Regions from separate parts of the Homo sapiens genome. Here all the other regions are reported to be linked to region 3. The links are microRNA targets in miRTarBase. Many come from high-throughput screens and were not tested one by one. Region 3 holds a microRNA gene; each other region holds the end of a gene's coding sequence.
What was found. Region 3 holds the annotated microRNA hsa-miR-5094 (AAUCAGUGAAUGCCUUGAACCU, at 1,334-1,355, shown strand). A microRNA usually pairs through its seed, bases 2 to 8, with sites in the 3' UTR of a target mRNA and lowers its output. Matches are read on the target gene's strand: a 7mer-m8 pairs with bases 2 to 8, a 7mer-A1 pairs with bases 2 to 7 and ends in A, and an 8mer does both.

Region 1: the mRNA of VPS4B is a reported target of hsa-miR-5094. Seed matches in the 3' UTR shown: 7mer-A1 at 1,607-1,613.
Region 2: the mRNA of NAPG is a reported target of hsa-miR-5094. Seed matches in the 3' UTR shown: 7mer-A1 at 857-863.

What each region holds. Positions count from the first base shown.
Region 1 is chr18:63,388,408-63,391,407 of GRCh38, forward strand. It overlaps VPS4B (vacuolar protein sorting 4 homolog B), which reads right to left. Exons shown (of 11, transcript NM_004869.4): 11 at 783-2,669. The coding sequence ends at 2,568. Among named protein-coding and RNA genes, the nearest start is that of KDSR-DT, 23 kb to the left of the region's middle.
Region 2 is chr18:10,549,779-10,552,778 of GRCh38, forward strand. NAPG (NSF attachment protein gamma) reads left to right here. Exons shown (of 12, transcript NM_003826.3): 12 at 299-2,986. The coding sequence ends at 442. Among named protein-coding and RNA genes, the nearest start is that of NAPG, 25 kb to the left of the region's middle.
Region 3 is chr15:89,848,893-89,852,044 of GRCh38, reverse strand. MIR5094 (microRNA 5094) reads left to right here and starts at 1,324; the gene lies at 1,324-1,408. All of the region lies in intron 8 of ARPIN-AP3S2 (ARPIN-AP3S2 readthrough), which reads left to right. The region is part of intron 4 of AP3S2 (adaptor related protein complex 3 subunit sigma 2); the gene reads left to right. RefSeq lists enhancers at 279-328, 2,640-3,152.

The DNA.
Region 1 (3,000 bases), not on the chromosome of region 3:
TGCTCCAGAGAAAAATCTTAACACAGCAGCAGCAGCAATTTAACTGCTAAAGAAACCCAAAAGTAGGGTGGGGGTAGTTTGGGTGGTCTTCCTGCAAGAGGTTACATGGTTCATCATCATTAGGTTTTAATGGAAATACGTGATGTGGACTAGCAAAAAAAAGAAAGATACCATATTAAAATAAGAGGAGGATACAAATGAAGGGATGAAAGTAGGAAAGAAAAGGGCACCTGTGAAAACTCACAAACTTAAAATAACATTAGTGTCAACAATGGGCACTGTGTTGCTTCACTTGCAACATACAGCACCATCAGGTAGGTATGCCTCTTTATCAACTCTGAAAGTGGCTAAATGGTGCTTCTGTGGCACTAATCAAGTACACTCATTCTGTTTTTCTGCATGTAGTTGACAGTGGACTCAGAAGTCAATTCTCTATTGACATGTTTTATAATTATAGAGTCCTTATAGATTTCTCAGGGTGAGACAAAATGCTTTCAAATATCCAGGGTGTAAGTCATAGAGATGCTTAACAACTATGATCTACTTGCTGGCTCAGAAAATGTCTACCTAAACTTTATAATTACTGGTCAAGAGCCAGAGAAATAGAACATGCCCATTCGGATTCCTTTGAGTATCTGTCCATAAAGAACACACAGCAGTACTGTATAATTCTGAGGCTGATAAACAGGTAAGATGTATAAATTATCTTATCCACAAAGAATTCAGTGTTAGTTTACTAAGTTAGTTCTCAATCCTCACATAAAAGTCATTGAAAAACAGAATTTTCATATATACATTAATAATTTTAATGATTTCTTTGTATCTAACCAATTTAGGTAATATTTTCTTTTACACAGAAGGTCCCAAAATAAAGAATAATACACAGAATACAGTCAATAGGTTATATCAATTTACTTCACATAAGAGCATAATTCAGGCCTTTTCCATTTAATAACAAAAACAATCTGTACAGAAAACCCAAAGGCAACCACATAGCATATGTAAAATGTGCAAATACACTTTAAAATGCAAGTTATTCTATAGCATTTGCAAGATAGAATTTCACTGTAATTAGGGAATCTAGTTCATCCTAACTTAATAGTCTTTTGCATGTATAGACAATGCAATTCTACAAGGCACAACTCAGCGTTGATGCTAAAGTATGAAACACATCCTCAGATTATTTATTTGAAAATATTAAAATAGCATCGTTTATTATTTTTTAATGAGTCATGAGCTCATTTCTAAAGCTTCATAAAGCATTACACTGATAACATATGTGTGGTCAGGACAAACTGTTCCCTGAACTTAAAAGGTGAAGGACAAGACCCCATATTATTATCCTGTATTAAAAAAGGAAATATACATATATGTACACAGACACCCCATATCACAGACAAGAAACTTCCCATAATTCAAAGGGAGACCATTTCCTTATTAGCAAAGGTGCGCATTACAGTATTTCATGACAGTTAAAAATTACACACCTACCACCTGTTTTGGTCAATCTTGCTAAAAAAGACACTGAAATAGACAATTTTCTTCTTTAAGGTAAAGACAATGTCTAATTTAGAAAATCTTCCTCTTGAGATTGCACAGTGAAAGGTATCAGTTAATTAAATATAAAAGCTTACCGTTTTTGTTTTTTTTTGAGACAGAGTTTTATTCAGTCGCCCAGGCTGGAGTGCAATGGCGCTATCTCGGCGCCCAGGCTGGAATGCAGTAGCGCGATCTCAGCTCACTGCAACCTCTGCCTCCCAGGTTCAAGTGATTCTCCCGCCTCAGCCTCCTGAGTAGCTGGGATTACAGACACTCGCCATCATGCCCAGCTAATTTTTGTATTTTTAGTAGAGACGGCATTTCACCATGTTGGCCAGACTGGTCTTGAACTCCTGACCTCAGGTGATCCACCCATCGTAGCCTCCCAAAGTGCTGGGATTACAGGCATAAGCCACCATGCCCAGCCAAAGCTTACGCTTTTAAAGAAATTATTTAAATCTACACAGAAAAAAATATCAACTTATTAAAAACTATTAAGAGCACTGTCTATAATTCAAAATCTTTCAAACCCAATCACAAAGCTCTTTGCTGTTTTATTGCCCATCCCTGAGTAAAGATTCTATCATTTGTAATTTTTTAATAACGTAAATTTTACATTGATAAGAATGATGTTTAACAATTTTTTTGAAAATATAAAATAAACCCTATATCATTTTAGTAAAAAAAAAAGAAAATATAAATGCTCTTTGCAAAGACCACCATTCATAAAAATTGTAAATATTTGTATGTCAATTTCTGACATCCTTTTTACTGGGTAATTTCTGTTTTTATGCCGTTCATATATCGCTCATTTCCTCATAACCTGTTATTTTGTACCTTTTGTTAATAGGAGTATTTAATAAGTAATGGAGGAAAAGTACAATATAAAACCTAATGGAACTCTGAAGTGAGATGTGTATTTCCCTGTGGTAAAAGAGTTTTACTGGAAACAATTAATGCGATCCAAATAGACAAAAATATCTATGAAAGAAAGAATACATATGGTAAGCATCTTCCTTGTCTTTGGCTTAGCCTTCTTGACCAAAATCTTCTGTAAACTTCTTTAATTTCAACAAGTCATGTTCATTGACTGTAGGTTTTGTGTTAGATAGTGACCGCAACATATCCGACTGTCAGGGAAAAAGAAGGGTAGGGAGGATATTAATAATAGAGTTAACAAAATAAAAAACCGTCATATTATCATTATTGCTATGAACTTTAACCTAAGTTTAAATATGAATATTTGCAGTCTGCCATAAGATACTAACGATAAACTCCCTATTCTTTTTTTTTTTTTTTGAGTTGGAGTCTCACTCTGTTGGCTCAGGCTGGAGCGCAGTGGCGTGATCTTGGCTCATTGCAACCTCTGCCTCCCAGGTTCAAGAGATTCTCCTGCCTCAGCCTCCCAAGTAGCTGGGATTACAGGCACCTGAAACCACACCTGGCTAATTTTTGTATTTT
Region 2 (3,000 bases), not on the chromosome of region 3:
TGATATATGTAGATAATTTTTTTTCTAAATAACGTCTTACATAGGTTTTGAAAATATATATATTTCTAAAGTTTTAATTAAAAAAAATTTATAATTGAAACTTTTACTAGTTGTGTACCTGTCCCACCATGGTCATGAGGCATCTGGGGAGCAGCATTGTTGGGCTTTGTTTTTCCATCTGAATGGTAGAATTGGTGTTCCTGAGGGTGGGGAGCCAGGCTGTGTCTTTTTAGAGCTGAGTAAAACATGTTAGGATTCTAGTTATCCAGCTTTTAAGAACATGTTCTGTTGTTGACAGTATGCTAAGCTGGGCCTGAGTTTGGTGGTTCCAGGAGGGGGAATCAAGAAGAAATCACCTGCAACACCACAGGCCAAGCCTGATGGTGTCACTGCCACGGCTGCTGATGAAGAGGAAGATGAATACTCAGGAGGACTATGCTAGTATTTTGCTTGCTGAAAAGAAAAGGGAAACAAAGGTAAAATCCTGACATGCCATTTCAAGGACTTGGGAATAGATTAGGGATATCCGTACTTCATTACAGTCATGATTTTGGATCCTAATAAAGACTAGTTTTTAGTTACCATCTTCCCAAATCACTCATTGTATCCATTACCTGTGAAGCATATCTTTTTCTTTCCATAAGAGCTTTTCTAAGACACCAGCAGGAATTAACAGAAAATGTACTGTCATGTTTTAATACATTGATTAAAAAATTTGCAAGCCAAATTATACATAAATTATGTTCTAAACAAAAGGGGTAATAAGCATAGGTATTCTCTCTTGGACACTTGTAAGTTACTGTTAGTGAATTGTTTTTTACGTTTCATTTAATAATTGCTGCTAAAGGTGATGTTTACTGATAAATCATTTTAAAATTTTTTTGTTTTGAAAAGTAAATTTATCCCCCATGATGTTAGATACATTTAAATTATTAAGTCTTTTCAGAGATGAGATGGGGACAGGAAGTTATTTTGAGCCTTACAATATTATTTAGCCCAATAAAAGATGCATTGAAGCTCTTATATATTATGAGTTTGAAAAATTTTGAAGGTAGCATATTGAAGTGATCTATAAATATCTTCAGTCCTCTCTGAAGTGTGGGTATTTCTTCTATCTAAAAAATACATACAGTGACTGTCTTCAAATCTACTTGGTTCTTGACCAAATAGGAGCTAATGGGTAATGAATACCTTTTTGTTTGTTTGTTTGTTTGTTTTGTTTTTTGTTTTTTTTTTTAAGGGTCTCACTCTTTTGCCCAGGCTGGAGTGCAGTGGCACAATCACGGCTCCCAGGCTAATGTTTTTATTTTTAATTTGTAATTTTTTTTTTATTTTTTTTGTTGAGATGGAGTTGCTCCATGTTGCACAGGCTGTTCTCAAACTCCTAAGCTCAAGCCATCTGCCTGCCTTGGCCTCCCAAAGTGCTGGGATTGTAGACATAAGCCACCTCACCCAGCCTATGAATATCTTTCTAACATTGTAAGAATGAGGTAATGTTTCCATCAGTCTAATACAGATATATTTCTTCCCTCCAAAACAGTTTATTTTGATTGTTTATTTTATTTTGATTGTAACTCCGTCATAACTTGACATGGAAAATGCTATATACTATGAAAACTTAGCTGAAAGGGAAGAATTGTTTTAGAAAGACAATATTTAAAACACCGCACTGCCAATATATTGATCCTTTATAGTTATTTCCTAAAATGCTGTTTTCGAAACATTCCTTTTTCACCCTGTTGTGTGGCTTAGACCCATCTCGTAATCTGTTAATTGGAAAGAGGCTACAGACACCAGCAGTGTGCGTTCTGCAGGTACACGCTGCCAAAGTAATTCCTGCTCATCCATGCCCTGTCTCTGTCTCTTTTAGAGTCATACCTTATTTGAGTATAGGTTGCTTAATTTTGCTAGACTTCCTGAAAACACTAAGGTGGAGTATCAGAAGTGATTTTAGTCACAGTTCTGCGGGAGAGCTTAGAATAACATCCTCCTTTGGGAGGTGGTCTCGGGTGCGTGGATGTTGGTATACAGTCTTTATTGTAAGTCTGATACAAAATGCTAATAAATTTAATGTTTTTCTTCCTTAATTTATTGGCATAGTTCTTCAGGTAGCACCTCATTTTTATTAATGATATTGGGATTAACTATGAACAAGCTATATGTAGACATTTGCATTTAAGGACATTGCAGTGTTTCAAAGATCCCATCATTGCAGCTTGTATCCTTTAGATCCAATCGGAAACTTCTGGAGTCTTACATTAATGCTCATTTGAGCTAATTAGTAATCTGTTTAAACAGATTTGGCAATACTTTAAAGATACTGTAGACTATTTATGTATAGATAGATCATATTACCCATTAAAGTCTGGGGGAAAAAATTTTTTAATTTTACTCTTCTTATGTACTGAAAACTTTTTTTAAAAAAGGTGATGATGAAGTGCATTCTGTAGCAGCAGCGCAGCTATGCTTTAAACCACACAAAAGGCTGTGTCCAGGTGCAGCCTCCTTCACCCTTCCTGCCCACGGTGAGGATTGAATAACCAGGACTTGGGGATATTGTTTGTTGTCAGGGTTATTCTGTGTGGTAAGGAATATTTGTTTCACATTTATACATTTTCTTTTTCCACTCACGTAAGTTTCTATCTTGAGAGCATAGTCCAAAGTGCAAAACTTGGTGTTTACAAGGAAAATTGTCTTCCAGAACTCCACTGTCATCACTTTCACCAAAGTGGAAGTTTGCATGAATATGCTCAGAATCTAATATTCAATGTTCTGTTACATTGTAAGTGAAGTCCAGCTACAAAATAGATTTAATATATTGAATTTATTTGTACATATGCAGAGTACGGTATTTCTGTATGGAATCTGCTTTATTCCTATTTTTCCCAACTCTGATGAGTAGAATATTAAATGTGTTGTTATGGAAATACAGATTATTGCTTCTATAGGAAGATAATTATGAAAATAAAACCTGAAACTATATAAATATAATTGTTCTTT
Region 3 (3,152 bases):
CTGTAGTATTCCCGCCTGCTTTGACATCCTAAATGTGGGGAAATGTGTTTGTGTCATGTTTTCTTAGCAGATAAGCAACCAAGGAAGGATGAAATTCAAAAGGACAAGGTCTGGATCTTTTTCTGTACTTAGCACTGTGCTTGGCATTTGGGATCAGCAGTGCAAACAGGTAGTAGCCAAAGGAGGATGAAACACTGGGTTAGAAAGAAAAAGTCCTGCTAGAACATTAAAAAAAAAAAAAATGATTTCACGGAGAACCCTGACTCATAATAGGAACTGGTTTTTTTAAAAAAGGAAGTAATAATATGTAGTGAGTATACTTTACTGCAGTCAACTATATATATTCAAAGAGCATAAAATATGAAGCCAGTGAGTGAGTGATCCTTTTATTAATTAAAAAAGAAGTTGAGTTGGGCGCGGTGGCTCATGCCTGTAATCCCAGCACTTTGGGAGGCCGAGTTGGGCAGATCACAAGGTCAGGAGTTCAAGATCAGCCTGGCCAACATAGTGAAACCCTATCTCTACTAAAAATAGAAAAATTAGCCAGGCGTGGTGGCACATGCCTGTAATCATAGTTACTCAGGAGGCTGAGGCAGGAGAATTGCTTGAACGCAGGAGGCGGAGGTTGCAGTGAGCTGAGATCGCACCACTGCACTCCAGCCTGGGGGACAGAGCAAGACTCTGTCTCAAAAAAAAAAAAAGAAGATGAATTAGTAGAGCATGAAGAATAATGAATGAGTTGCTAGGTAATTTGCCATTCCCTCTGCCTGGATGCCTTTTCCTCCAATTGCCAGTTAGTTTTAAGGCCACCCTTCTCTGAAATAACATAGTACTTTGTACTTGGGTCATGGTATTTATCACAGACTTCCTTTTATTATAGTTAATTCTGTACATGTTTAATCTTTCTTACTTGATTCTAAGCTCTTTAAGGACAGGGTCCACATCTTATCTTCATTTCCTTCTTCCAGCTCTTAACAATCTGTGATGTTAAGCATATTTGAAAATAGACATTGTTAGAGATTATGTTCTTTTAGTGAAAAATCGGCCAGGTGCTGTAATCCCAGCACTCTGGGAGGTTGAAACAGAAGGATTGCTTGAGCCCAGGAGTTTGAGATCAGCCTGGGTAACATGGTGAAACCCTGTCTCTACAAAAAATACAAAAATTAGCTGGGTGTGGTGATGCAGGTCTGTGGTCCCAGCTACTCTGGAGGCTGAGGTGGGATCACTTGAGCCTGGGAGGCCATGGCTGCAGTGAGCCATGATCACGCCTCTGCTCTGCAGCTTGAGTGATAGTGACAGAGCAAGACCCTGTCTCAAAAAAAAAAAAGAAAAAAATCAGTGAATGCCTTGAACCTAACACACTGCCTTTTATGTGGTAGGTACAGTGGGCTCACTGAAACATTCAACTTGTTCAACTCTATCCATTTGTCCAAAAACAAAAAGGAAATGAAAAATTCTAAATACAGTACGAATATGCCCTCAATTCTACTTAATTAGTATATGTCTGGAATGAGTGTGACATGGAAGATTTGAATCTGCTCTTCTTTGCCTCTGCTCTCATGTGCCTGTGCTCATGTGTATCGTAGAGTGCTTAGAGTGATTCTAATGCTTAAAACAAATTTTCAATCTCTGTGGCCCCTAAACCAGCCAGCCGTTTCATCTGATGTGTAAGACAAGGCTCCACTGGATTCATTCATTGCCCACTGAAACAATGTATGATCCTGTGAGTGAAAGAGAGAAAGAAATCAATGGCTAGGGATTGAATGTCTTGTGGAATTTTATGACAAGAAGACATCTAGGGAAAACCATGGAAATGTCCAGTCTGAAGATCAAACAGTTCATAAAAGTGATTCAGAAGACACTAAGAGCAGGTGAAAGGGAAAAACAGAACTTTACAAAGCAAAGTTGCTTTCTTGGCTTGCTTTCTTCAGAGCTGCTTAGGACCAGACAGCTCTATGTGCCTGAGAGTTCCTGAAGGAATCTTAGCATTAAAATACAATTTACCATGAAATACTATGCAGCCATAAAAAAAGGATGAGTTCATGTCCTTTGCAGGGACATGGATAAAGCTGGAAACCACCATTCTCAGCAAACTAACACAAGAACAGAAAACCAAACACGACATGTTTTCACTCATAAATGGCAGTTGAACAATGAGAACACATGGGCACAGGGAGGGGACCATCACACAACAGCACCTCTCGGGGGTAGGGGGCTAGGAGAAGGGTAGCATTAGGAGAAATACCTAATGTAGATGACCAGTTGATGGGTGCAACAAACCACCATGGCACGTGTATAGCTATGTAAAAACCTGCATGTTCTGCACATGTACCCCAGAACTTAAAGTATAATTTTTTTTTAAAAAAGTACAATTCATAGGCTGGGCGCAGTGGCTCATGCCTGTAATCCCAGCACTTTGGGAGGCCAAGGTGGGCAGATCACTAGGTCAGGAGATCGAGACCATCCTGGCTAACATAGTGAAACCCCCGTCTCTACTAAAAATACAAAAAATTAGCCGGGCGTGGTGGTGGGCGCCTGTAGTTCCAGCTACCCAGGAATCTGAGGCAAGAGAATCACTTGGACCTGGGAGGTGGAGGTTGCAGTAAGCCTAGATCGTGCCACTGCACTCCAGCCTGAGCGACAGAGTGAGACTCCATCTAAAGAAAAAAAAATACAATTCATTACTTAGATATTAACAATGAGCTGCAAAAAAAGCACTCCCCCCAAAAAAAGCCCAATTACATTTAGAATATTCTTTTTTAGAAGTCATGGGAGTGTGTAATACGCTTTTAAAGTTTTCTGTTAAAATGATTTAATGGTGATTTAATGTCTCTTTCATGCATATTGTTTTGTCTCCCTAGCTAGAAGTCAACTTTTCAATGAAGTCAAGTATGCCTGGTACTTGTTAATGTGTTCCATGTTGTTCACTGTAGTTACACCTACATAGACATCCAGCCAACAGTCATTGAGTCTAATTACCATATGTTCATTTTTAGGTAAAAGAGATGCAAGGGAATGAGGATAGTCAGTCCTTTGCTTGTCTTAAAACACCGATAAAACATTGGACTTTGGAATGAAAGTACGAGTAAGAGAGAAAAAGGCATATGTACCAGGTCCTCAATACTACTCATAAAGATATCTTCTTCCTCTTT